Homo sapiens: one gene and its partners. The protein of the gene in region 5 purifies or fractionates together with the protein of the main gene of each other region. This does not show direct contact. Each region holds a gene or a part of one and is shown on either strand. Other genes may lie near its edges. The genes, in order: BRF1, IFT80, SLC39A10, ADARB1, TCF20, CLUAP1 and RAI1.

Region 1 (3,970 bases), on a different chromosome or scaffold from region 5:
GACTTCCAGCTCTGCACTGCTCCACACCACCATCCTCCCCCGGCAGGGCACAGTGAGGGCAGTGCGCTGTCACCAGGCCCGGATGCACTTAACACTGTGCCTGCCCGGGAAACCCTGCGTCTGCTGCCATGACAACTTGCTTTCATTACTGTTGTTATCATCCCAACAGACATCCAAGTCTTGGCAACTGTGACACAGCTGCAAACTCTGTGCCCAGCAGTCCTAGGAAGATACCCAGGGAGTATGAGCATGGAAGACGATGGGGAGGGAAGAGCAGGAGAGAAAACTCAATGAAGCCCAAGCCAGTTCTTAGAAAAGATCAAAAACACGGATCAACTTCTAGCAAGAGAGACAAAGGGAAAAAAAGACACAAAACACCAACATCTGAAAGGAAAAAGGAGGCCACTGTGGACCCCGCAGATATCAAAAGGATAAGGGAATGCTTCGAACAACTCTCTGGGCAAATTCAACAACTAGGTCAAGTGGACCAATTCCTCAACACAAGCGGCTAATTCACCCCAGGTGAAACACAGCATCTTAAATATAACTAGAACCTCAGTGATGAAAGAAGCCGAAACCACAGTGCAGAATCTTCTGAGAAAGAAAGCTTTGGGACCAGATGGCTACGCTGGTGAATTCTACCAAACATTTCAGAAAGAAAGAACACCAACTCTACATAATGTCTTCCAGAAAATAGAAGAGGAAACGTTTCCCAACCCATTCCATAAGGAGCAGAACCCTGATACCCAAGACAAGGACGTTACAGGAAAAACTACAGGCCAATATCCCACGCAAGCATCAGCAGGAACCCTCAACAGAACATCCGGCGCTGAGCAAAGCAGCTCATGCCGCTAATCCCAGCACTCTGGGAGGCCAAGGTGGGAGGATGCCTTGAGGTCAGAAGTTCGAGACCAGCCTGAGCAGCAAAGCAAGACCACATCTCTACAAAAAAAAAAAAAAAAAAAAAAAAATTGGCGTTGGCTCACACCTGTCATCCTAGAACTTTGAGAGGCCAAGACGGGAGAATTACTTGAGCCCAGGAGTTCCAGACGAGCCTGGTCAACATGGCAAAACCCCATCTCTACAAGAAAAATACAAAAATTAGCTGGGTATAGTAGGGCGCACCTGTAGTACCAGCAACTCAGGAGGCTGAGCTGGGAGGGTCACTGGAGCCCAGGGGGTTACGACTGCAGTAAGCCATGACCACTGCACTCCAGCCAGGGTGACTGAGCAAGACCCTAGACCCTGTCTCCCCAACCAAAAAAAAATTTTTTTAATTAGCTGGGCATGGTAGTGCATGCCCGTAGTCCTAGCTACTCTGGAGTCTCAGGTGGAAGGATCTCTTGAACCCAGAAGTTCCAGGCTGCAGTGACCTGTGATCACACCACTGCACTCCAGTCTGGGCAACAGTGAGACTTTGTCCCAGAAAAAAAAAAAAAAGCTGGGTGCGGTGGCTCACGCCTGTAATCCCAGAACTTTCAGGGGCCAAGGCAGGTGTATCACTTGAGATTAGAAGTTCAAGACCAGCCTCACCAACATGGTGAAACCCCATCTCTACTACAAATACAAAAACCAGCCGGGTATGGTAGTGGGCTCCTATGTAATCCCAGCTACTCAGGAGGCTGAGGCAGGAGAATCGCTTGAACCCAGGAGGGGGAGGTTGCAGTGAGCCCAGATTGCGCCACTGCACTCCAGCCTGGGCAACAGAGCGACACTCTATCTCAAAAAAAAAAAAAAAAAAAAAACTCAAGGAGTGTATTAAAAACTCTTAGGGGCCAGGTGTGGTGGCTCACACCTGTAATCCCAGCACTTTGGGAGGCCAAGGCGGGTGGATCGCCTGGCCAACATGGCAAAACCCCATCTCTACTAAAAATACAAAAACTGCGGCCGGGTGCAACAGCTCACACCTGTAATCCCAGGACTTTGGGAGGCCGAGGTGGGCGGATCACGAGGTCAGGAGATTGAGACCATCCATGTAACCCCGCCTCTGCTAAAAATACAAAAAATTAGCCGGGCGTGGTGCTGGGCGCCTGTAATCCCAGCTACTTGGGAGGCTCAGGCAGGAGAATGGCATGAACCTGGGAGGCAGAGCTTACAGTGAGCCGAGATTGTGCCACTGGACTCCAGCCTGGGTGACAGAGCAAGACGCCGTCTCAAAAAAAAAAACAAAAAACTTAGCTGGGTGCGGTGGCGGGTGCCTGTGATCCCAGCTACTTGGGAGGCTGAGGCAGGAGAATCTCTTGAACCTGGGAGGCGGAGATTGCAGTGAGCCAAGATGGTGCCACTGCACTCCAGCCTGGGCAACAAGAGCAAGACACCAGCTCAAAAAAAAAGAAAAAAAAAAAAAAACCTCTTAGAACAAGTAAGTTTAGCAAAGCCATAGGAAACAGGACAACACACAGAAATCAACCATATTTATATAAACAAGCAATGAAGAGTTGAAAACTAAATTAAAAAAATTCCACTTATAATAACTCCTAATAGAGCTTAGGTACACATCTAAAAAATGTCCAGAGGGCCAGGCACGGCAGCTCATGCCTATAATTCCAGCACTTTGAGAGGCTGAAGTGGGGGGGGATCACTTGAGGTCAGGAGTTCGAGACCAGCCTGGCCAACATGGTGAAACCCTGTCTCTACTAAAAATACAAAAATTAGCCAGGCGTGGTGGTGGGCTCCTGTAATCACAGCTACTTGGGAGGCTGAGGCACGAGAATCGCTTGAACCCAAGAGGCAGAGGTTGCAGTGAGCCGAGGTTGCACCACTGCACTCCAGCCTGAGTGACAGAGCGAGACTCCATCTCAAAAAAAAAGTCCAGAAGCTGTATGCTGAAAACTACCCAACACTGACAGACTATATCAAAGAAAATCTAAATGAATGCAAACATACACTGTGTTCCATGGACTACAAGATTCAACATAGAAAAAATGTCAGCTGGGCACAGTGGCTCCCACCTGTAATCCCAGCACTTTGGGAGGCCGAAGAGGGCGGATCACGAGGTCAGGAGTTCGAGACCAGCCTGGCCAATGTGGTGAAACCCCGTCTCTACTAAAAAATATACAAAAATTAGCTGGGTGTGGTGGCGTGTGCCTGCAGTCCCAGCTACTCAGAAGGCTGAGGCAGCAGAATCACTTGAACTCGGGAGGCGGAGGGTGCAGTGAGCTCAGATCGCGCCACTGCACTTCAGCGTGGGTGACAGGGTGAGACTCTGTCTCAAAAAAAGAGAAAGAAAGAAAAAATGTCAGCTCTCCCTAAATATATCAAGAGGTTTAATGCAATTCCAATGAAAACCCCACCAGGACTTTTGTACAGGTTGAACATCCCAAATCCAAAAATCTGAGATTATAAATGCTCCAAAACGGCCCGGTGCAGTGGCTCACGCTGGTAAACCCAGCACTTTGGGAGGCTGAGGCAGGTGGATCACGAGGTCAGGAGATCGAAACCATCCCGGCTAACACGGTGAAACCCCGTCTCTACTAAAAATACAAAAAATTAGCCGGGCGTGGTGGCGGTCGCCTGTAGTCCCAGCTACTTGGGAGGCTGAGGCAGGAGAATGGCGTGAAGCCAGGAGGCGGAGCTTGCAGTGAGCCGAGATAGTGCCACTGCACTCCAGCATGGGCAGCAAAGCGAGACTCCGTCTCAAGAAAAAAATAAAATAAAAAATAAATGCTCCAAAACATGAAACTTTTTGAGTATCAACACGATGCTCAAAGGAAATGCTCACTGGAGCATCTCAGATTTCAGATTTTTCGATTAGGGATGCTTAACCAGTAATTATAATGCAGATATTCCAAAATCAGAAAACTCTGGTATCCAAAACACTTCTGGTCCCAAGCATTTCAGGTAAGAATATGTGACCTGCAGAGATGCACAAACTTACTCTAAAATTAAAAAGAGAAAGGGAAATTAATAGCCACAACAACTTTGAAAAGGAAGAACAAAGGTTGAGGGACTCACAATATCTGATTTCAGG
Region 2 (3,370 bases), on a different chromosome or scaffold from region 5:
CTGGGGGTGGGAGGAGAGGTGGTGAGGTAAGGCAGGGCATTTGAGAATGACTTCAACATTTCTAGTGTGGGCAGCTGATAGATGGGAATGCCATTAATCTAAAGAATACATAAGAATATACACATTTTGGACCTTTGAGTTTGAATACATGAAAATATACCATTTTGTATGTGATTAGAGTGTCTATCAGGTGTCCAGAAGGAGGTATCTAGCAGGCAATTAGAAATATAAATATGAACACAAAAGGACATTGACAAGGGAGAAATAAGGGCTAGAAAACTAAATTTATTGCCTTGACCATCTAGGTATAGTTGAAGCTATATGAATTGATATTTCTTAGGGAAAGTGTTAGAAAGCTATGGTTGGACCCTGGTGAATATTAACAGTTAAGAGGTTGTTGAAGGAAACCAAAATATGACACCCCAAAATATGTCTCTTTGACACTTATATTTTTGAGCTAAAGACAAGCTGCAGCAAATGGAAGAGCTCTATTCTCCCCCTTTTCCTCCTAAAGACAAAATATAAATTCTCCTTTACTAGAGACAACTCTTGTCAGCTCAGGGACGACTCCAGAGCAATCTACCAAAAAACCTTACTCCGTGGCTGGGCGTGGTAGCTCACCCCTGTAATCTCAGCACTTTGGGAGACCAAGGCAGGAGGATCATGTAAGCCAAGCCCAAGAGTTCAGGACCAGCCTGGGTAACAAAGTGAGACCTTGTCTCTAAAAAAATTTAAAAAATTAGCCAGGTGTGGTAGCATACACCTGTGGTCCCAGCAGGAGGTTGAGGCTGCGGTGAGCCATGTTTGGGCCACCACACACCAGCCTGGGTGACAGAGCAAGACCCTGTCTCAAAAATAGAACAAACCTCACCTGATTAGTTTCTTCCCATATATTTTTTTCCCATGGTTTCCAATCTCTGGAAGCCTAAAACTGTTTTCACTTCTCTAAAAACAGTCTTGTCACATCTTTAAAATTTATTGTTCTTTGTTGAAAATGCTATGTAACCCAGAGTTCCAAGACACTGTTTTGAGTTACCTTTCATTGAGATTTCTCCTGCTGTGATGTACACTGCACATATTATTGAACCGGCTTGTTTTTCTCTTTTCACCTATCTCTCCCATCAATAAACTTACAAGCGTTGAGGAGAAATTATATTTCTTCTCCAACATTGTCTAGGGAGCAGAATATAGGGAAAAAAGAGAGAGAAAGAAAGAAGCAGCATTTAGAAAGGAGAGCAGGAGCCAGAAGAGAATGGTATTATACAGTCTTGAGAGATTTTTCAAAGAGCAGTGGTCAGCAAGGTCCAGAGAAGGCTCTTATTCCAGGGCCGTCCGTGTACTTCTGCATGTCACCATGCCCTTCTCCAGATATACACATGGGTCTCACTCATCTCCTTCAGGTCCCCCTTTTTTTTTTTTTTTTTGAGACAGGGTCTCACTTTGTTGCCCAGGCTGGAGTGCAGTGGCACAATGACAGCTTACTGTGGCCTCAACATAGCCAGACTCAAGCGATCCTTTCACCTGAGCCCTCTAAGTAGATGGGACTAGAGATGAATGCCACCAAGCCCAGCTAAATTTTTTATTTTTTTGTATAGACAGGGTCTCACTATGTTGCCCAGGCTGGTCTTGAACTCCTGGGCTCAAGCAATCCTCTTGCCTTGGCCTCCCGTGAAGTAAACTGATGACATTGCAACCTCCTATTCTATTCCTGGTGCTCACTATCTCCCTTCTCTATTTTCAAAATCTTTACCGCTTCTGGCATACTAGATATATTTTTTGTTTTGTTTATTATCTGCCCTTTCCATTTTTATCTTTGTTTATTATCTCTCTATGAAGACAGTGATTTCTATCTTTTTGTTCACTGGTGAATCCTTGTACCTCAGACAATCCTTGATATATACTAAGCACTAAATATTTGTTGAATGAAAAATTGAATCATACAGAGAAGGTATATAAGATAAGGACTGAAAACAGCCGAAGGTGGTTTTAGTGCAAAGTTCTTAAAGTGTCACAGGATCAGAATTATAGTGGACAGGGAAGAGAATGAGAGTCAGGAATGAGAAGAAGAAGGATGGTAGCTTGCAGGGAGAAGACAGCATAGAGAGCCAAGGATGATGAGAGCGAGTCAGTGAAAAGAAGGACATTTAATGTGTGAGGAATAATTGAAGTCAGATGTCCTAGAGGAGTCAAAGAAAATGGAATCAGAGACATATGTTAAGAGGTTGGCCTGAGACGGAAGAGAAAGATAATGATGGGTGTAGATACAGGTAAGTTCGTGAATGCAAGGAAGGAAAATAAAGTGAATTCATACCTCATGGCCACTATATTCTCTGTAAAGTAGGAAGCTGATCTTCAGCTGAGAGGAAGAGAAAGAGAAATGTGTTAGAGGATGGAGAGCCTTTTGGTATGATTTTGAAATTGCTTATAGGTGACTAAGAATTGGCTAGCGAGTAGAATAAGGAGTGCCAGATAATATTGGCAGTCCCTATACTAGCAAAAGATGGATTTTAGTGTAGAAATCACTTGACAACTATCAGAGAACATTCTTATCTAAAACCTACTATTAAAAATATTCTAATCCACGAACTAAATTATCTGTAGAACACTTTTTAAAACTAGATCAATGCCAAAGCGAAAGTGAAACATTTATTTTCAGTAGGACAGCTATCCACTGACACCCTGATTTGTATTATAACAAATAACTAATACAGATATCATCAATTTACTTGCAACAGAGCAGCAGTTGTTCAGTATATTATCAATGTATGGTTTTATTGTGATTGATTTGAGAAATGTATGTAAGTCAATTTAAGGCTGGAAGAAACCCAAAGCATCCATCAAGTTTCGTCTTCTCTATAAGTGTTTTGTTAGACATAGAAATGAGTGCTTTGCCGTTTAAAAAATATCAGATTTTGCCCTGATTGAAAAAATGAGTCTTTCAAATAATCTAACATCTGCTTGGCTTTTCAATGAGCTGTCACTTGCATCTTAGCACAGACATTTGTCTTCTATGAGTGAGAGGAATTCGTTTATTAATTCATCTATTTTATGTATTATACATAAGTATATGGCATTGTTATTTTAAATAAAGGTGAGCCAAAATATTTACAAATTGCTTCACAGCAATTCAGGTATGGGATATTGGAATTAAAAAAAATACTTAATTTCTTTAACCTCCAGCATAAAAGAGGCATGAAGTCCTATTAAAGTTAAATTAACCCCTCACTTACTTAAGCTAAATCTGTTCAAGCAGACTGAGATTACTTCATTCTGCTTTAATACTACTTATTCCATTCAACTCCCCTAAACAGAGGTGAAAACCTATTCACTTTTGGCCCAGACTCAGGGGTTTGGATTTATTTCCTGTAAA
Region 3 (3,970 bases), on a different chromosome or scaffold from region 5:
GTGAAATTCAGATTTTAAAAATCTTTTTTCTTTCTTTTTTTGAGATGGAGACTCACTTTGTCGCCCAGGCTGGAGTGCAGTGGCATGATCTCGGCTCACTGCAACCTCTGCCTCCCGGGTTCAAGTGATTCTCCACCTCAGCCTCCCGAGTAGCTGGGGCTACAGGCGCCCGCCACCATGCCCCGCTAATTTTTTGTATTTTTAGTAGAGACGGGGTTTCACCATGTTAGCCAGGATGGTCTCAATCTCCCGACCTCATGATCTACCCGCCTCGGCCTCCCAAAGTGCTGGGATTACAGGTGTGAGCCACCGCGCCCGGATACTTAAAAATCTTTACACTGATTCTGATTCCTTAATGTATTCTGTTCATGAACATTACCTGATATTTCATAGGTAAACATATGGAAATAAGTTTAAATATGATTAATACTCCACTGTTACTTATCCTGTTTTTAAAATGCACCACAATTATGTGAGAATTACGAAGCAGCTATCGGACATCTTTTTATACTTACTTCATGATGATGGTCATCTTCATTTAGATCTTTTCTCAAAGAAATTATTGCATTATTTTTAACATGTGGTGCTTCTCTCTTTCTAGTATGTCGAAGTTCACCTTCATTATCAGGATCAAGATCTTGGTGTCCACGACCAGGATCATGACCATTACGTTCTGGAAGATGTACATGAGAATGACCTGGGTTATGTACACGATCAGGTTTGTGGACCCGATTATGCTCATACTGTTCACCCTGATCATGGTTAGGGGGAAAACCTGGTGTAATAACCTCAGAATTTTCATTACTTTTCCTCCCTTTTTTCTTCCTCTTTCCTTTCGGTAGTTTAACATCAGATTGTTCCTGGGTTTTATTGGTCTCTGTTGAAGGTTCATTGCTAGGCTCCCCACGCTCACTGGGAGTAATGGAATCATTATGAAAATGGTGAGTGTTGTTATGATCAAGATGATGATGCAAACGATGGTGATGACGTAGGCGGTGATTATGGTCATGCATATGTTTATCATCAGATTTTACAGACACTTCAACTGTCTCTTTCTCTGGATCACATTTATGGTTTCTTTTTGTGGATACACTGGTCACAGTTTGATTTTCTGAATTTAAATGATTATGGGAATGCTGGTGGTTATGTGAGTGAAAATGCTTTCCCTCTTGAACTGCCAAAATATCTAAATGAGAAACATGATCGTGGCCAAGATCCTCATGATTAATCTCAACTACTTTTCTCTCTCCAAGGCCCAAGTTTGTTAAAAGTTTCTCCAAACCAAAAAAGGATAATCTTCCATTTTCACCATAACGCTCAAAAAGTTTTTCAATATAGTATTTTTTTTCATTTTCAGCAGCTTGCTTTGAAAATTTGCTTGGCTCCAATTCTGTCATTCCACGATGCTGTCTGTGAAGCGCTTCAGGGCCATGGTCATGTTCTTCATGGCAATGGTTGCAATGATGAAAAATAAATGTCAGCAAACAAATGAGGCAAAATTTTGTGTGCATATGTACCTTCATTTCTATTTTTCCTAAAGAGATTTAAAGAGAGAGACAAGTATTAGTTTCTACCTAGACACATTCAAAACAATCTAATTCTCTGGAAGTTGCCAATCCACTAAAAAAAGTTTTACTCCATTTCCTTCATGATAAAATATGTTAAGAACCAGAGAAAAGTGAAACTGTCATTATTCACAAATGGTAGAATTAATTATGCAGCATGCCTTAAAGAATCTTTAAGAATAAGTTAGTTTAGTACAGTTACTGAATATAAGGACAGTAATAAATTATATTCCTATATATCAGCAATAATTAGAAAATAAAACTCAAAAATAGTAACATTTACAACAGTAGCAAATAGCTAGGAATGTATCTAACCAAAGACATACAAGAACTTTACATAGAAAAGAGAGAAATTATTGAGAGAAATATTATTGACAGAAAATTACTGAGAGAAATAAAAGACCTAAATAAACGGATGGCTATATCATGTTATGACTGGATAAGCTATGTATCCAATACAACCCCAGTCAAAATCTCAGAATTTTGTGAAAACTGATTAACTGTTTTTAATATTGATGTGGAAATAGAAAGGGCCAAGAACGGCTAAGATGTATTCCTTGAGGAACAAAATTGAAGCATTTACTCTATGAATTATCAAAGATGCTGTGGTATTTGGTGCAATAACAAACAGACTAAAGGAACAGAAGACAAAAGCTAAAAACCGGAAAGGATGGTCTTTTCCTTGGTGCTTGGTCAATTAGGTTTCCACACAAAAGAAAATAATAAATAAAATCTGACCCTTACCTCACACATCATTACAAAAATCAATTGCTAATAGCTCCTGAACATAAATCTGAAACAAGAAATGCTAAAATGATAAAGTGTCCAGAACTGTCCAATTCAATGGTAGCCACCACTAGTCACATACGGGTACTTAAATGAACTAAAATTAAATTTAAAATGCAGCCTCTCAGTCACCCTGACTATGTTTTAATTGCTCAACAGCCACATGTAGCAAATGGCTAGTATGTTGGACAACGTAGACGCAGAACATGTCCATCATTATAGAAAGTTCTATTGGACAAGCATACTTCAAGAATCTAGAAATATAATAAGAGCCAATTATGTAATTCTGAAGTTTTCCAGAATAGATGAAACTAATTTCATACTATTCTATTTAACCCATTATATCCAAAATATTATAATTTCAACATCTAATCAATATAAAAATTATTAAAATATTTTACATTCTTTTTAATACTATGTCTTTGAAATCTGTCATGTATTTTACACTTACAGCACATCCTAATTCAGTCTAACTGTATTTCAAGTGCTCAACAGACGTGTGGCTACTGGCTACTGTACTGGAAAGCGCAGATCTTGAAGATTTGGGAGACTAATTTTAAGACCTTCGAGATAGAACACAAAATTGATAATATATTACACTGAAATTAAGAATTTATGTTTCATCAAGAGACATCCAAAAAAAAAAAAAAAACCTAACTAAAAAGGCAGGCTGCAGACTGGGAGAAGACTACCACAATGTATACTCAAAAATATATAAGGAACTTCTATAAATCAATATGAAAATTACAATAAGACGACCCAATGAAAAAATGAGTAGGTAACTTGAACAAGCACTTCATAACAGCAGCCAAACTCCTAAAAAGCAAATGAAAATATGTTCAGCTCAGAAGTCTTCAGGAAACCAAATTAAAATCACAATTAGATACCACTATATACCCCATGAAAATAACTGAAATATAAAATACTGCCAATATCAAAAGTAGGCAAGAATATATAGAGTTAAATGGAACTTGTGTACTGACAGTAGTATTAGAGATTGTATCTTCTGAAAAACTGTTTGGCAAGATCTGCCAGAAGCTGAATGTAAGCCTATGTACTTACACAGCAATTTTAATCTGGGGTATATGCCCAACAGAAATCCATGTACATGAATACCAACATGAATATTCACGTAATCATTATTCATCACAGTCAAAACTGAAAAAAGGCTGGGTGTGGTGACTCACACCTGTAATTCCAGCACTTTGGGAGGCCAAGGCAGGCAGATCACCTGAGGTCAGGAGTTTAAGACAGGCCTAGCAAACATGGTAAAACCATTTTTACTAAAAGTACAAAAATTAGCCAGGCGTGGTGGCATGTGCCTGTAAGCCCAGCTACTTGGGAGGCTGACACAGGAGAATCACTCGAACCCAGGAGGCAGAGGTTGCAATGAGCCCTGATCGTGCCACTGCACTCCAGCATGGGCAACAGAGACAGACTCTGGTCAAAAAAAAAAAAAAAAAAATCTGATAAAAGCCTAAATGTTAATCAACAACAAAATGATAAATGAAACAGAAAAATCTATCACACAGGAATAAAAATGAAATTACAGCTTCATGCATAGATGAATTTCACAAATATTGGGAAAAAAATGACAAACACCAAAGAAAGCAGTATAA
Region 4 (3,970 bases), on a different chromosome or scaffold from region 5:
CTTCACACCACCTTCCTGTGTCTTCCGTTTCAGGCATCAGCAATGCAGAAGCACGGCAGCCAGGGAAGGCCCCCAACTTCAGTGTCAACTGGACGGTAGGCGACTCCGCTATTGAGGTCATCAACGCCACGACTGGGAAGGATGAGCTGGGCCGCGCGTCCCGCCTGTGTAAGCACGCGTTGTACTGTCGCTGGATGCGTGTGCACGGCAAGGTACTGAGGCGCCCTCACCGCAATGCGCCGGCTCCACCTCCCCAATAGCTTGTCTGTCCTCACACCTACTGTTCCTTAAGTTGTTTCATCATGTCATCATGCACAGCTTCCGAAAACGATCACTTGGAATGATTCTTCCTTCAGATTGTTTTAGCTTAGAAGTGTGGCTACGTCCCTGAAACCTTAATGCCATCTCAAAGGCAGCTCTTTTCCTCCCTGCTGCAGGGTAACACCCACTGCCAGGCCACTGTGTGTGGTGGAAACGTCTCTTACTCTCAGATATTGAAAGTCATTATGCAAAACGCAGGGCCAGTCACCCTGCTGTCCCCTCCTTCTCAGCAACATAAAAATTGCTTGGATTGTGATAACCCTCCAGTGGAGTTTTTAAACCTTTTGAATTAGCTGTGGGGCCCTTTTTTCCCCAGAATAAAACTTTATATAGTAAGTCAGGGTATTACTAGTTTGTGTGTATTCTTCAGTCAAGTAGATGGCATCTGTTTATTCTGAGACCAGCATTGTGCACTGGCATGGGAGGTATAGCCAGAAGGGACAGTGCCCGGGAGGGTCCTGTTCACCAGGGGCAGCACCCAGGCCAGCTGCCACAAGTCCAAGGTCCACACAGAAGGAGTTACTGGCCGCATGAGGGAAGGCCTCCGAGGTCATCAGGGTGATGACACACATAACATCCGTGGTGCTTCTTAGAGTTAAAAATGAAACGTGAATCCACTATTGGTGGTTTCCCAGAAGCATGTCTTCAGAACTCGGGGGTCTGTAGCTGCCTGTTTGACCAGCAAGACTGGAACTTGGCAATAACTCAGCCCTTAGGAGACGCCGCACCTTGTTCTGTGTGAAGCCGTTCCCTTGGCAGAAGGCGCCTTCCTCTGGGTTGCTTTCCCCCCAGAAGCCAATGCAGTTCTGAAGGCCATGTTTTGGTATCTTATTAGGTGTTGTTTTCATCTGTTACAGCGTCAACAGTTGCATTTGTTTTTTTATCCCTTCACAGGTTCCCTCCCACTTACTACGCTCCAAGATTACCAAGCCCAACGTGTACCATGAGTCCAAGCTGGCGGCAAAGGAGTACCAGGCCGCCAAGGCGCGTCTGTTCACAGCCTTCATCAAGGCGGGGCTGGGGGCCTGGGTGGAGAAGCCCACCGAGCAGGACCAGTTCTCACTCACGCCCTGACCCGGGCAGACATGATGGGGGGTGCAGGGGGCTGTGGGCATCCAGCGTCATCCTCCAGAACCTCACATCTGAACTGGGGGCAGGTGCATACCTTGGGGAGGGAGTAGGGGGACACGGGGGACCACCAGGTGTCCACGGTTGTCCCCAGCATCTCACATCAGACCTGGGGCAGGTGCGCAGTGTGGGGAGGGGATGGGGTGCGTCAGGGCCCAGCATCGCCGCCTGGCATCTCTCTGCCGCAGCATTTCCCCTTCTGAACCGTCCAGTGACTGCTTTCAATCTCGGTTTACGTTTAGAAATTGAGTTCTACTGAGTAGGGCTTCCTTAAGTTTAGGAAAATAGAAATTACTTTGTGTGAAATTCTTGAATAAATAATTTATTCAGAGCTAGGAATGTGGTTTATAAAATAGGAAGTAATTGTGTCAGGTCACTTTTATGCCACATTATTTTAATTGCAAAAAAGCATCTATATATGGAGGAGGGTGGGAAAATAGAGGTAGGAAATAGTAGCCTAAAGGAAATCGCCACACGTCTGTCTAAACTTAGGTCTCTTTTCTCCGTAGGTACCTCCCTGGGTAGTTCCACACACTAGGTTGTAACAGTCTCTCCCTGAGGAGCAGACTCCCAGCATGGTGTAGCGTGGCCCTGTCATGCACATGGGGTCCCGCAGCAGTGACTGTGTGTCCTGCAGAGGCGTGACCCAGGCCCCTGTAGCCCTCAGCCTCCTCTAGAAGCTTCTGTACTCCTTGTAGGATCAGATCATGGAAAACTTTTCTCAGTTTACTTCTAAGTAATCACAGATAATACATGGCCAGTAATCCCAGGCTGGCCATTCATTCAGGTTTTTTAAAGGATATTTAACTTTTATGGACTAGAAGGAATCACGAGGGCTACTGCACAATACATGGCCTAAGTTCCCTCTGTTCCTTCCTCTGAATCGAATGGATGTGGGTGACCGCCCGAAGGCCTTCACAGGATGGAAGTAGAATGATTTCAGTAGATACTCATTCTTGGAAAATGCCATAGTTTTAAATTATTGTTTCCAGCTTTATCAAAGACATGTTTGAAAAATAAAAAGCATCCAAGTGAGAGCTGGTGAGACCACGTGCTGCTGGCGTAGTGTAGGCCAGACATTGACAGTCCTGACGGGAGCTCAGGGCTGCCCAGCGCCCAGCGTGCACGGGACGGCCCCACGACAGAGGGAGTCAGCCCGGGAGGTCAGGAGCGCGGCGGGCGAGGGCCCTGTGTGGACCACCTCCACCAAGCTCAGAGATTTGCACCAGGTGCCTTGTTGCCTCCGCTCAGGATGAAAGAGGAGCTGAGAGAAGTGCTCTGCCTGCCAGTGCAGTGCCCAGCTCCAAGGCTCTAGAGGGTGTTCAGGTGGGTCTCCTGGGGCCATGGGGAGAGATTGGTGCAGACCTTACCCCACAGCATACACCTGCCACAGCGAAATCCAGGGTGTTGGCACCTGTGTGTCCGTGATGAGCCTAGGAAACCAGAGCAGGGGCAGAGGGGCGTCATCCTCCCACCGGACGCTGGGAGCTCAGACCCCAAAACTGAAACACCGTGGCTTCGGCGGGGGGTGTGCCTCCTGATGTCAGGAGCCCCATCCACGTGTGTCCACACAGATCTCGTCGCAGCACGGCAGGAAGGGGTGCTGCTTAGGGCTCATTGTTGGGGACATGACCGGGTTCAGCGGCTAGAACATCTGCCCCACAGCAGCCTCCTCCTCCACCGAAGAGGGTAGTTGTCTCCCTGAAGCAGTCACAGCAGGCGTCTCTGCCGCTCCGTCACCACAGTGGGGTTTTGTTCAGGCAGATCGCGCTGGGGTTCTGCACCTGCAGAAGGAGAGGGGTCTGTTGTCGCTGGCTTTCCCCCAAGCAGGCTCTTGCACACTCTAGAAAAAACACCTTGTAAGTCTGTGCATTTTTATTGTCTTGATAAATTGTATTTTTTTCTAATGGGGATTGGGAGATGGACTTCGTTTTTAAAAATATGTGGATTTTGGTTACCAAGTTTAGTGTTAATATATTCCATATACATACAAAACTACCCGGTATGTCTGGCTTTTCCCTTCTGTCAGGTAATAGCTAAAGTCAGCATGATTGCTCCCTGTACCACCCCAAATAAGTGAGTGCCTCACCTTGTGGGGCCTGAGCAGCTACCTTGAGACCATGTGAGGTGGCACCTTTCCGGGGTGGACTCGTGCGGCCTTGAGGACAGGCACAGGGCACCCTATCCCAAGCCGTCCAGGCAGGAGGAAGGCAGCCAAGGCAACTGGGTTCTGGGAGCCCTGGGTGGGGCAGCTGTGGGGAGGAACTGGGTTCGGGGAGCCCTGGGCGGGGCGGCTGTTGGGGGGAACTGGGTTCGGGGTGCCCTGGGCAGGGGGCTACTGGGGGGCGGCTGTGAGGAGGAGTTGGGTTCAGGGAGCCCTGGGCGGGGTGGCTGTCAGGGGGAACTGGGTTCCGGGAGCCCTGGGCCGGGGCAGGGGGCGGCTGTAGGAAGGAACTGGTTTCGGGGAGCCCTGGGCGGGGCGGCTGTGGGGAGGAAGGTGACGTGCAGGGGACCAGAGGCT
Region 5 (3,970 bases):
GGGGTATCATACAGGACAGGGAATCTGCAGGGGAAGGCTGAGAACAGACCTAAGAAGGAGTCCTTCCTGTATCTGTTTTCCCTGTCTGGAGATAGGGCAGCCTCAGGCCTGATACCCTGATGTTTAAAGTGGCCTTTAGCTCTTGGTGGCTCCTATTTAGGAAGAATATGGAGCAAGTGGCAACATTGTTTATACACTCAGATCTTCAGAAGCCTGATTTTATTTCCAGAAGGATTAATTAAACAACATGTAACATAGCTTTTTATAGAGAATATCTCTTGAGAAGGCTTTTCATTAGTTTAAACTGCTAGCTTTAATGTTTTTGTTCAATTTAGCCCCCATTCAGCCTTGTTTTATCTAGAGAAGGCCACTGGCACTGAGGAGTAGAGCAGGAGCACATCACAAGGGGAAAAAATTAATACTCATGTAGACAGAATTGCTCTTGATAGTTCTAAGAATGATGGGGAGCGGGTGAAGAGCCAGCTGGAACAGTATGGAGGTCCTTATAAGAGGGTGGCAGTGAAGGGACAGATTTATTGTGGGTGGCTACCCACTTTCAAGGCCAAACTGACAGGACAACTGGTATTTTTTACTGACCATGTGGAAGACCCTCTGGGCAATGTAATGTTAAAAACATGTCCTGCCCCCAGCCCTGCTGCCTAGGAGCTTTGTGAACTCTGCTTCTGTTTCCTCATCTGTAAAAGGAGCGTGCTAGTGTTGTGAGGATTAAATGAGTTAGTGTATGTGAAGTGCTGGAACAGTGTCAAGCAGCATCATCACCATTTGAATAGCTATTACCTACTGCCCTGCAGATTCACTGGAACAAAGCAACAGAGGCATTTTGAATAGGATGAGAAGTTTCCTTTAGATTCTGACATTATTTGCACATGAATGTTTAGCGATTGTTTTGGGTCACATGACTATATAATCAAGCTTAAGGAAGTAGACCCTTGTCTAGCTGTTTTAGACTTACGATATTTCAAGATATGGGTCAAGCTTTTAGAATTTGGGGTTACTGGCCATCTTCTGCTCTAATCAATATTTACTTTCTGAAGTCTTTCCTCAGTTCTCATGTGGACTCAAGCTGGGTCTTTCCCTTAGAACCGGACTCATGGGATTTTACAGGCAAGGTCTTCAGCATCCTCCAGCTCTGCTTTTAGGTTGATCATATTCTATTTTCACTTTCTATAATTCTCTCATGTCACTCCCACAGCACCATCTCTGAATATGTGAGTTCTAGCCTAGTTCTCTAAGGCCTAGTTCTTACACCATTTAATCATTCACACAGACTCCGGTGTGATGACGTGAGGATTACAGCAAGGAACAGTCAGTTTCTGCCCTTTAAGGAGTTTACATTTTAGTCAGAGGAGAGACAGACAGTAAACAAGTAGCATATATGTGTCTGTTTGGAGTAAGTATGGGGCCAGGCAGGGGATAAAACAGGGGAGGGAGTTACAGCCAGGGAAAAGGTGTGGAGCTGGCTGTTTTTACTAGAATGACCAGGGAATGAGTGACACTTGCCCAAAGACTGGAAGGAGAGCAAGCTATCTGGCTCTGGGAGAAGAACGTGCAGGTGAGAACAGAGTTCCTATGTAGATATGTGGTAGGCCTGTTCCAGGAACAAGGCAACTGTGGGGCTAGAGCAGAGAGTGATAGGGGAGGAGCTCAGAGAGGTCAAGGGGGTGGGAGCAGGGGCCTTTGAGACCAGTTTCCCAAAGAATGAGGTGGGAGCCACTCCAGGGATTGGAGAGGATAAATCTGACTTACCTTTAAAAAGGTTGTTGACTTTCCTGCAGGCAACTCCATTTTCAGCTCCCCTTCAGGGGAACTAGGAAACTAGCTTCATAAACCATTGTAACTAAACTAAACTGTCTATTACACCTCACTTTACCCTATATGTATTTTGGAACTTGTTTTTTTAAGTAATTGGTTCTAAAGTCACTTGGAGCAATTTGGCCTTGTCCCTTTCATCTCTGACTCTGAGGAGACAGGCCCAGGTGAAAGGGGAAAAAATCAGCTTGATTGATTAAGAGGGATTATAATAGGTAATACAAAGTGGTGGCTCAGTCAGATAACTTTGAAAGAGTCTGGGTCCTAGGCTTGATGAATTCCTATTTTCCTCTCTGTTTTTTGCTGTCCTCCAAGATGATTGCTTCTAATTCTTTCATAGTAATGGCCAGTAATAACTGTGAATTTAAAAAACTGGCAAATACAAATACCACATGGCGGGTAAAGGTGCTGGAACTTCTTGGAAACCTCCCAAAATAATCTGGAAGAATAGTCACTGCTATTCACTGGCTTAAGTCTAGCCCTTTGTACCTGGGAATTGAAGGAGAGTGGTGGAGAGAGGGGTGCTGTAGACACAGTCATATGCCAAGAAGAGGTTGACTCCAAAGTTTGTGTGGAACCCATATGGGCTGAGTGTCCTGGAGTCACCAGTCATCACAGGTAGTTGGCAATTATAGTAAAGCTGCAAAAATTTGCACTTGGACATAAGGAATTGGCTGCAGTTCTCTGGCCAGGTCTGTTTCTCAGTGTTGGGGAGTGGCGATCAGCAGCCAGTGTTAAAACCCGCAGTTCAGTGATCACCCTAATACATGAAAGCAGAGAAATGAAAGTAGTGGCTTATGCCTGTAGTCCCAAAACTTTGAGAGGCCGAGGCAGGAGGATCATTTGAAGCCAGGTGTTTGATGCTGCAGTGAACTACGACTGTGCCCCTGCACACTCCAGCCTGGGCAAGAGTGAGACCTTGTCTCAAAAAAAAAAAAAAAAAAAAAAAAAAAAGGATTTGGTTTTTCTTACCCCACACCCCCTCCCCCGCATAACTGGGAGGCTTATTGAAAAATTGCTGTTTTTCATTGACAGTAATAACACAGCCCCATATTTTAATCTGGTTGAGTTTGGGGGCTCATTTGTCTAATAAGGCATTATTAGATATATGAGACATACATGTTTTTGCTGTATTGGGTTTGTATGCACTCAGAGTGCTGCTTTTCATTCTACTACAGATTCTTGCCTCACTCTTTAGGCCATTTCTCTGCATATGTGCATTTTCAGAAGTGGATAGGATAAAATATAAAAGATGAAATTCAAGGTCAGGCGTGGTGGCTCATGCCTGTAATTCCAGCACTTTGGGAGGCCGAGGTGGGCGGATCACGAGGTCAGGAGTTCGAGACCAGCCTGGCCAGCACAGTGAAACCCTGTCTCTACTAAAAATACAAAAAATTAGCCGAGCCTGGTGGCCATGCGCCTGTAGTCCCAGCTACTCGGGAGGCTGAGGCAAGAGAATTGCTTGAACCCTGCAGGCAGAAGTTGCATTGAGCTGAGATCGTGCAATTGCACTCCAGCCTGGGTGACAGAGTGAGACTCTTGTCTCAAAAAACCAAAAAAAAAAAATAGAAATTCAAACCAGTCAGCTTCATCTGGGCCTCTGATTCATCTTTATTCCCTCCATCATCTAGACTTGATTTTATTTGTACCAAGGAGATGCGTGTCTAATGTTTTTCTTTCTTCTATTTCTAGGAGGGCTGTTGGCCTGCTGCTGTGCTGCTGAACAGTATGCAGTCCTTTCGGGAGCAAAGCAGTTACCACGGAAACCAGCAAAGCTACCCACAGGAGGTACACGGCTCATCCCGGCTAGAAGAGTTCAGCCCTCGTCAGGCCCAGATGTTCCAGAATTTTGGAGGTACAGGTGGCAGTAGTGGCAGCAGTGGCAGTGGCAGTGGTGGTGGACGACGAGGAGCAGCAGCTGCTGCGGCAGCGATGGCTAGCGAGACCTCTGGCCATCAAGGTTACCAGGGTTTCAGGAAAGAGGCTGGAGATTTTTACTACATGGCAGGCAACAAAGACCCCGTGACTACAGGAACCCCACAGCCTCCTCAGCGAAGGCCTTCTGGGCCTGTGCAGAGCTATGGACCCCCCCAGGGGAGCAGCTTTGGCAATCAGTATGGGAGTGAGGGTCATGTGGGCC
Region 6 (4,520 bases), on a different chromosome or scaffold from region 5:
TCTTTTGTGAAGTAGCTTTTAAAATGTTTTCTCCATTCTCTAATTAGACTGTTTCTCATTATTGAGTGTTGAGAGTTCTTGATACATTCTGGATACACGTCTCTTTATCAGATATGTGTTTTGTGCATATTTTCTTCTAGACTGTGGCTTATCTTTTGTTTTTCTTAATAACACGTGAAGCAACATTTATGGGAGGCCATTGTTTTGGAGCGAGCTCCTGCACAAGGTACCAACGGACCAGACCAAACCAGAATGGAATCGCTAGTGCAAGGTGCCACGTAATCAATGCGAACTTAGAGACAGGCCAGTCTGCCAAAACACAGAAGATTCACTGCAACCAACAAAAGGGGCCCTGTCCACCTAGGCTGGCATAAGGAAGCCCCCTCTGCTTTAACCCAAAGAAATGCATCTGAAATAACCTGATGCCAACCAATCGCTTTGTGCACTACGCTGTTTCCTTGTTCCTGCTCAAGCTACCTTACAAAACCCGGCTGCTGTGCCACGCCTGGCGGGGCATCTCCCCATTTCACACGTGGAGGCCGCCCCTTCCTGCCGTCTCCTCGCGCCCCCATGCAGAGGCTAGGGCTGCCGGGACCCGCGCGGCGCGAGCGGCTCAGGGCCCCTTTCCGGCCTGTTGTGCAGCCCGAGCCGTCTGCGCGTGCGCGAGACCGAGGCCTGGCCTGCCTCTGGGCGCCCACAGTGATCCCGTCCTCCGCTCGGCAACCAGATTCCGACGAGGAGCGCGCTGTGCCTCGGACGGGGGAAGGCGGGCTTCCTGAGTATAGTGCATTTTTTTTTTTTTTTTTTTTTTGAGACAGAGTCTCGCTCTGTCGCCAGGCCGAAGGGCAGTGGCGCGATCTCGGCTCACTGCAACCTCTGCCTGCCGGGTTCAAGTAATTCTTCTGCCTCAGCCTCCCGAGTAGCTGGGATTACAGGTGTGCGCCACCACGCTTGGCAAATTTTTGTATTTTTTGGTAGAGACGGGGTTTCGCCATGTTGGCCAGGCTGGTCTCGAACTCCTGACCTCAAGTGATCCGCCCGCCTCGGCATCCCAAAGTGCTGGGATTGTAGGCGTGAGCCCCCGCGCCCAGCCAAGCATCGTGCATTCTTTATAGAAATGAGGGGGAAATAAGCAATATGGAAAGCGCCTAGCGCAATATCAAGCACGTAGTAGGTACTCAGAACCTGTCACCCAGCGCGAAACGTCCGCAAAGCGTGTAAACAGACGCCCAGAAGCTGGGAAGCTTGCAGCCCTCATAGACGCCGGTATCGCCACGCCCTCTGCCCTCGGCGTCTCAGGAGCGCTCTCTGCCGGCCCGCTCTCCCCGTGCGTATGCACGTGCCGCCGCGTCTTCGCTTCGCTTTTTGTTTGTCCCTGACCGTGCGCCGTCCAAGGGTCCATTGGTTGCCATAGAGATCGTCGAGCGCTGGGCCTGTGATCGCTGAGGGGCGAGCAGTTGCGACCCTGGGCTCCTGGGGACCTGAGCGTTATGTCTTTCCGCGACCTCCGCAGTAAGGCAGCCCCGCGCCCCTGTGACCTGCGGGTCTTCCAGAGATTCAGGGCTCCCGCCCGCCGGGTCCCCTGTGTAGGCGATCCCTGAGGCTTGCGCTGCCGGAGGCTCCTTTCGGGCCTCTGCGCCTCAGGGACCGCCTGACCCGCGGCTGCAACCCGGCCGAGCGTCCCAGGCCCTTCTTCGGCCATTTCTAGCGAGGATGGAAAGTTCTCTATCTGCCACTGGCCGCGTGTGGCTCAGAACGCTTGAAATGTGGCTAGTGCAGATGAATAACTGAATTTTTAAGTGTAATTTATTTCTGTTTGTGTAGCTGCATGCCGCTCTTCGCTACCGTATTGGAAAATGCATGGAGAGTTTAGAGACTATTTTTTGAGTTGGGTTAGCTTAGCGCTTAGAAAACCGAACAGCAGGCCGGGCGCGGTGGCTCACGCCCGTAAGCCCAACACTTTGGGAGGCCGAGGCGGGCGAATCACCTGAGGTCGGGAGTTCGAGACCAGCCTGACCAACATGGAGAAACCCCGTCTCTACTAAAATTACAAAATTAGCCGGGGGTGGTGGCGGGCGCCTGTAATCCCAGCTACTCGGGAGTCTGAAGCAGGAGAATCGCTTTGGAGGTTGCGGTGAGCCGAGATCGGGCCATTGCACTCCAGCCTAGGCAACAAGAGCGAAACAACATCTCAAAAAACAAAAAACAAACCAAAAAAAAAACAACCAGCAACGAAACCGAGGAGAGGAGGCTGGGTGATAATCATTGCGGCTAACATTTTTTGAGTTTTAACGATCTGCCAGGGCCCGCTCTGTGTTATGCGCATTTCATTTTAATCATCTGAACAACTCTGTGCCCCCTGTATTTGGTAGTGAGGAAACGGGCACAGAGAGGTCAGGTAACTTGGGCAGGTGATACAGGCGGTAGGAGGTGGCACTGGGGCTTGAATTCAGGTTGCCTGAACTCCAGACATCCTGAACTCCATCTGCATCCTTTCTGCAGGGCTGGTAAGGAGAAGGGAGCTCGAATTCCTTTGCTAAGAGGGTGGGGAAGTGGAAGAACGAGGCTAAGAGTGTTGGTTACGGCTGGGCGCAGTGGGTCACGCCTGTAATCCCAGCCCTTTGGAAGACCGAGGCAGGCGGATCACTTAATTTCAGGAGTTCTAGACTAGCCTAGCTAACATGGCGAAACCCTGCCGCTGCTAAAAATTCAAAAAATTAGCCGGGCATGGTGGCGCGCGTCTGTAGTCCCAGGTACTTGGGAAGCTGAGGCAGGAGAATTGCTTGATTCCGGGAGGCAGAGGTTGCAGTGAGCCAAGATGGCACCACTGCGCTCCACCCTGGCCGACAGAGTGAGACTGTCTTTAAAAAAAAAAAAAAAAAAGGAAAGGTAGATGATGATTGCCAATTTGGTGTGATCCGAGGGGTCTCTTAAAGCCAGTTTTCTCGTCCAATTGTTGGTGCCTGAAATTTTAGCATTAGAGATTACTCCTTTTGGTTATGAATTGCTCTTTTCTACAATGTAAAAATATCTAGGAAGACGCATTACCTTTTATCCATGCAGCCACTGAGCACCAGAGTGTGAATCCTGCCCTCTGGGGTTTGAAGGTTTTTGGTGGCCACACATCATGCAGGATGACTGTCTCCTCCCACATAGTTTTTAGAGAGGCCAGCACCCTGCCGGGGGACGTAGAATGGGGTTTTGTTGGGGAGCGCACACACGGAGATTTCGGAATATTTTGATCTTAAATTAATGCTCTGCAGTTGTGCAGTGTATGGTAAGGATCTTACTCAAATTAGTGTCTATTTTGACAATAACACCGCAGCATTAACAGAACTTGACTAGTACCTAGTGGTCAGGAGTATTTAGGCAGTGCCTTACTGTGTGAAGGAAAGGCTGCTGCTTTCTTTTCTGTTCTTTTTTTGAGACAGTCTTGCTCTGTCTCCCAGGCTGGAGTGCAGTGGTGTGATCTTAGCTCACTGCAACCTCTGCCTCCCAGCAATTCTCCTGCCCCAGCCTCCCCAGTAACTGGAATTATAGGCGCCCGCCACCACACTCACCTAACTTTTGTATTTTTATTTTTATTTTATTCTTTTCTTTTTTTGAGATGGAGTCTCGCTCTGTCACCCAGGCTGGAGTGCAGTGACGCGATCTCGGCTCACTGCAAGCTCCGCCTCCTGGGTTCACGCCATTCTCCTGCCTCAGCCTCCTAGTAGCTGGGACTACAGGTGCCCGCCACCACACCTGGCTAATTTTTTTGTATTTTTAGTAGAGACGGGGTTTCACCGTGTTAGCCAGGATGGTCTCAATCTCCTGACCTTGTGATCCACTCGCCTCGGCCTCCCAGAGTGCTGGGATTACAGGCGTGAGCCACTGTGCCCGGCAACTTTTGTATTTTTAGTAGAGGTGGGGTTTCACCATTTTGGTCAGGCTGGTCTTGAACTCCTGACCTCAGGTGATCTACCCTCCTCGGCTCCCAAAGTGCTGAGATTACAGGCGTGAACCACCCGCGCCTGGCCTTTTTTGTTTTTGTTTTTGAGACAGGGTCTCACTCTGTCACCCAGGCTGGAGTGCAGTCACATGATCTGAGCTTACTGCAACCTCCTGGGCCCAGGTGATCGTCCCACCTCAGCCTGCTGAATAGCTGAGACCACAGGCATGCACCACCACACCCAGTTAATTTTTTTTTTAATCTCTGTATTCACATTTCCCAGAAAACAGTTACAGAGTCCCTTTGTGACTTTGCTGTTTCCTGTGCTCACACTTTCTGTTTCATTGTCTTGCGAAGTCTGACCTGACTTGCAGTACCTAGGTAGGTTATTTGTGAACATTGATGGACCATTTTGAACATGGATCTTCAAGAAGAGTGCAGACAGACCTTAAATAACCAGGAAGCACACTGAATGTAGATCTTGGTACATATGGGAACTCAACAAATGTTTGTGGTGTTCATTTCCAAGTCCTGCTCTCTTGAAAGCACTAAGGCTTTTCCTGAGGTGACCCCAACCTATGGATCAACA
Region 7 (3,970 bases), on a different chromosome or scaffold from region 5:
TTGTTCAAGAAAGCCGCACAGAGTAGGTGTTCTGCAGCCGCCTTGCTCCCGCCTCAGCAGTCCTATAGATTTCTGGAGGGAAAGGGCTGAGGTCTTTGCCTAAAAGAAGGGCTGTGCCCCAGGTGTGTGCCACACTGCCGAAGGCCTGTGAGAGCCGCTGGCCTTGCACCGTAGGGTAGCTGGGGTTTCGTTGTGCCCCCACTATGTTCATGGCTTGGAGTGAGGACACCCATTGCTGTGTCAAGGGGAATCCTGATGCCCTGGGTGCTATGTGATTCCAGCTCATGCTCCCTGCTGTGCCTGGCCTGCCTCCTCTGTCCAGCGCTGAGAAGACTAAGTTCCAGGATCTGATTCTAAGGGTGAAGTGTTCATGTATCTGGTGCTTAGAGGATGCACTAGACTCCGCTCCTCCTGCCTTCTAGTTTCAGCAAGAACTTTGGAGATAAGGCCTGGACCAAGTGTCTGAGAGGAGAGGCAGGTTGGGGAGAAACGGATGGATGGGAATGAGTGGGGACCGTCCGGGCAGTGTGGTTGAGCTGGACCATGAGGAGTGAGCCCAGTGGGTGGGGGGTGCCCTCCCTTGTCCCCTCTCACCACCCCTTCTCCCTCCAGCCCAAGCCACAGGCCAAACCCACAATCTGCCTGCTAGGCCACTTCTTCCCTGCCCCCAGGTTCAAAGGTCACCATCGTTCTGCCGGGGCCAGGGAGGGGGGTGCTCTTTCTGCCCCCTCCTCTCCTGAGGCCTGCCCAGCCCAACCCAACCCAGCCCAGCCCTGCTGCCTGCCTCGCCTTCTGTGTCCTGTCCTAGTGCTCTTGAAAAGTAATCATAATCATAATAATTAATAACAACAGAGCCCATAGCAGGCCTGAGGCAGCCCTTAAAGAGGCAGTGCCCCCTTTTCTCCCAGCAGAGCTGGCAGTGGGACCTGGCTGGCACTGAGAGGCGGCCTGTGCCTTTGTTCCCATCCCTCCCTTTGCCTTGGGTTCCAGGGTGGTGTTGGGGCGAGCATTTTTGCCTGCATTCTCCATCAGCACTGGGCTTCTCGTGTTTTAATTGAACTGTCTTTTCTTAGCAATAGATGCTTTCACCGCATCCAGCTGCTCGTGTGTATTGGGAAACCTGCCTGTAATACAGCTCGGCTAAATTAAAAGACACAGCAGCTGGACCAATTAAACAGGGAGGGAGGAATGCAGACGGACAGGCAGGGAGGGGGTACTGGTAATAGCACCCCCTCACTGTCTCTGTCTCTCTTTAAATAATGTTTCTGGTAATGCATTTTGGAGAATGTGAAAAAAAATAAAAAATAAAGCCGTAGAAATGTTAATGATATCCACAGGACACTCAGCAGGAAATGAGAGTGATCTGGGACTAATAAAAGCCGAAATGTAATTTGTGCAGATATACGAGGCGCAGCCTTCAGAGTGGTCCTGGGTTTGCACATTCTGGGCTCATAAACATGCGCCTGGGGAGGGCAGGGAGCGGGCGCTGTGCCCTCGGCCTGGGCACAGGCCCGCCTGGGCTGCCCTGTGGCAGTCTGGCCAGGGCAGGAGCGTGAGGCTGCCCACCTGGCAGGGAGCTGCCAGACCAGAACCAAGTGCCGTCCCCAGCTCCTCTGGGTTGGCGCGTCGCAGCAGGAACCTCCTGTAATGTTTTATCCAAGCTGCCAGGGGTAGGATTGAAGTGGGTCAGAAGGGTGGGCACGCTGCTTGTTAGGGATGCCTGCGACAAATCCAGGGAGAGGAGCTGGAGCAGAGGGAAAGCGGCTTTGATAAGCCGGTGGGCAGGGGCTCGCCTCGTGGGAAAGTGGCCGGCCCCCACACTGGGCTGACTCTCCTGCATTTGTGGGCCAGGGCAAGCTGACTCCAGAGAGCAGGAGAGGTGGTCCCAGGACTGGGCTGACGGGCTTCTGGGGGCCATCTGGCTGCCCTGGGCTTGCCCTGCTCTCAGGCAGATGGAGGCCCTCTGTCGCCTTCCCTGCATCCATCCCCAGACACTAAATGAGGAAGGCACTTGTGGTGGGGTCCGGGCCAAGGAAGAAGGGTAAATGGAGCAGCACCCCCAGCTCTCCCCCACTCCCCACCTTTCTGCCTCTTCCCTGTGCCCCTCCCCGACTCTGCGTGCCTCTCCCTCTCTGTGCCCCTCTCCCCCTCTCTTTGTCCCTTCCTGACCCCTTCAACAACCTGGAATCTTTGTAGCCTGAGGCAAGCCACCCCTTCCTTTTGGAGCATTTGGGAACCAGCACTGGAAAGTCCCCTATCCCCTCCTGGGGGCCTGGGCCACACAGGCCGAGCTGAGCCCCTTTCTTCCTGCCTCCGGGCCAGCATGGTTCTGGGTAAATCCCAAACCCTCTGGGACTCGGCCAATGGCCAGCCCCTCCATGCACTTCCTCCAAAACCTGGGGCATTCCTCTTTCTTCCATCCCTCTTTGAGGGGTCTTCTGGTTGGCCAGGCCAGCGAGTCAGCTGGAGGAACCTTTACCCTGGATGCTGGGCTGTCAGATGCTCTGCTCTGAGAGGCTCCCGCAACCCACCCTGGGTCCTTTCCTGACCCAGGATTCTGCTCTGCAGGCAGGGGCAGGTTAGACCCCTGCCTGAGCCCCATCCCCTAAAATCATAACCAGATGGGCTCTTGAGTGTTGCCTGCCCCAGCCCTCACCTGCTGAGGTGGGGAGGAACTGGCCAGGAGGGGACAGGGCTGTGTCGCCCCATGTGGGTGGGGCTGGGCTGTGCCCTTCCGTGGCCGTGGCCCTGGGACTGCATCTCTACTCCCATTAGTATGCACTCCCTCACTCTGGGCCACGTAATCTGTTTATGCACGTATGATATCAAAAACAGGAGGCAGGTGCTGCCGTCTTGCGTTCCTGGGAGTCAGAGGAGGGGACATTTTATGTCTACAGTGGCTTGGCAGCCCCTAATCGATGTCTGCTAGAAGGAACAGACAGATTCCAGATGGCGTGGCAGTGATAGAGGAGGTGTGTGTGTGCATGCGTGTGTGTGTGTGTGCGCGCGTGTGTGTGTGAGCATACATATGCTTGTGTGCACGCATGTGCGTGGGGACAGGGGCAGACCCTCCTCAGTCCCCAGCATGGCTGGGTCATGCTTGAACACGGTCGCGAAGGGACTAAATTACAGGATCCAGCAGGCCCCAGGGGATGAGGGAGCGGGAATTGCTCTGCTAAATGCTTTTGAGCTGTCAGGAAGGGCTGGGAGTGATGGGTGGGGGACATTGGGGAGGAGCTGGCAATGGGCGGGGGGGGGGCGGGTAGCTCCCCAGTGACCTGGCGCTGGGCAGCCGGTTTTGCCTCCCGCATCAGTGGCCGTCCTTGGCAAGACTCAGCTGCAGGCGATGTGGGAGCGGGAATTACAGAGCACACCTCCCTGACACAGAAGTTGTCAATATGCGCACAGCTGGTGGGGAGGCTCAGGCGAAGGGGGGACTATTAAGAGCTGCGCGGGGGAGCAGGCAGGGTGGGGAGGTGGGTGGGAGGGTGCTTTCTGAGGCAAAAGGAAGTGGCCCGTCTGAATCGCTCATCCTCTGCCCCCTCCCTGCCCATCCTCCCCTCCCTCCTTCCCTCCCTCCCTCCCTTCCTTTTTCTTTTCACAGATAACCAGCCCGAGTCATGCAGTCTTTTCGAGAAAGGTGTGGTTTCCATGGCAAACAACAGAACTACCAGCAGACCTCGCAGGAAACATCACGCCTAGAGAATTACAGGCAGCCGAGTCAGGCCGGGCTAAGCTGCGACCGGCAGCGGCTGCTCGCCAAGGACTATTATAACCCGCAGCCTTACCCGAGCTATGAGGGTGGCGCTGGCACGCCCTCTGGCACTGCAGCCGCGGTGGCCGCCGACAAGTACCACCGAGGCAGCAAGGCCCTGCCCACACAGCAAGGCCTGCAGGGGAGGCCGGCTTTCCCTGGCTACGGCGTCCAGGACAGCAGCCCCTACCCAGGCCGCTATGCTGGTGAGGAGAG

Evidence for each region.
Region 1: the proteins of TCF20 (region 5) and BRF1 purify together in Homo sapiens (affinity purification with mass spectrometry; one large-scale study listed by BioGRID and IntAct). This does not show direct contact.
Region 2: the proteins of TCF20 (region 5) and IFT80 purify together in Homo sapiens (affinity purification with mass spectrometry, with the first as the bait; one large-scale study listed by BioGRID). This does not show direct contact.
Region 3: the proteins of TCF20 (region 5) and SLC39A10 purify together in Homo sapiens (affinity purification with mass spectrometry; one large-scale study listed by BioGRID and IntAct). This does not show direct contact.
Region 4: the proteins of TCF20 (region 5) and ADARB1 purify together in Homo sapiens (affinity purification with mass spectrometry; one large-scale study listed by BioGRID and IntAct). This does not show direct contact.
Region 6: the proteins of TCF20 (region 5) and CLUAP1 purify together in Homo sapiens (affinity purification with mass spectrometry, with the first as the bait; one large-scale study listed by BioGRID). This does not show direct contact.
Region 7: the proteins of TCF20 (region 5) and RAI1 purify together in Homo sapiens (affinity purification with mass spectrometry; one large-scale study listed by BioGRID and IntAct). This does not show direct contact.

Annotation. Positions count from the first base shown.
Region 1 is NC_000014.9:105,294,358-105,298,327, forward strand, and holds part of BRF1 (transcription factor IIIB 90 kDa subunit), read right to left. Parts: intron 1-3,970.
Region 2 is NC_000003.12:160,259,856-160,263,225, reverse strand, and holds part of IFT80 (intraflagellar transport protein 80 homolog), read left to right. Parts: intron 1-3,370.
Region 3 is NC_000002.12:195,677,596-195,681,565, reverse strand, and holds part of SLC39A10 (zinc transporter ZIP10 precursor), read right to left. Parts: intron 1,535-3,970; coding exon of another isoform or gene 1,524-1,534; coding exon 516-1,523; intron 1-515. UniProt on the Homo sapiens protein: Zinc-influx transporter. When associated with SLC39A6, the heterodimer formed by SLC39A10 and SLC39A6 mediates cellular zinc uptake to trigger cells to undergo epithelial-to-mesenchymal transition (EMT).
Region 4 is NC_000021.9:45,220,803-45,224,772, forward strand, and holds part of ADARB1 (double-stranded RNA-specific editase 1), read left to right. Parts: intron 1-33; coding exon 34-212; intron 213-1,215; coding exon 1,216-1,395; 3' UTR 1,396-3,970. UniProt on the Homo sapiens protein: Catalyzes the hydrolytic deamination of adenosine to inosine in double-stranded RNA (dsRNA) referred to as A-to-I RNA editing.
Region 5 is NC_000022.11:42,214,894-42,218,863, reverse strand, and holds part of TCF20 (transcription factor 20), read left to right. Parts: intron 1-3,522; 5' UTR 3,523-3,558; coding exon 3,559-3,970. UniProt on the Homo sapiens protein: Transcriptional activator that binds to the regulatory region of MMP3 and thereby controls stromelysin expression. It stimulates the activity of various transcriptional activators such as JUN, SP1, PAX6 and ETS1, suggesting a function as a coactivator.
Region 6 is NC_000016.10:3,499,578-3,504,097, forward strand, and holds the start of CLUAP1 (clusterin-associated protein 1), read left to right. Parts: upstream 1-1,426; 5' UTR 1,427-1,490; coding exon 1,491-1,512; exon of another isoform or gene 1,513-2,507; intron 2,508-4,520. UniProt on the Homo sapiens protein: Required for cilia biogenesis. Appears to function within the multiple intraflagellar transport complex B (IFT-B). Key regulator of hedgehog signaling.
Region 7 is NC_000017.11:17,789,329-17,793,298, forward strand, and holds part of RAI1 (retinoic acid-induced protein 1), read left to right. Parts: intron 1-3,604; 5' UTR 3,605-3,620; coding exon 3,621-3,970. UniProt on the Homo sapiens protein: Transcriptional regulator of the circadian clock components: CLOCK, BMAL1, BMAL2, PER1/3, CRY1/2, NR1D1/2 and RORA/C. Positively regulates the transcriptional activity of CLOCK a core component of the circadian clock.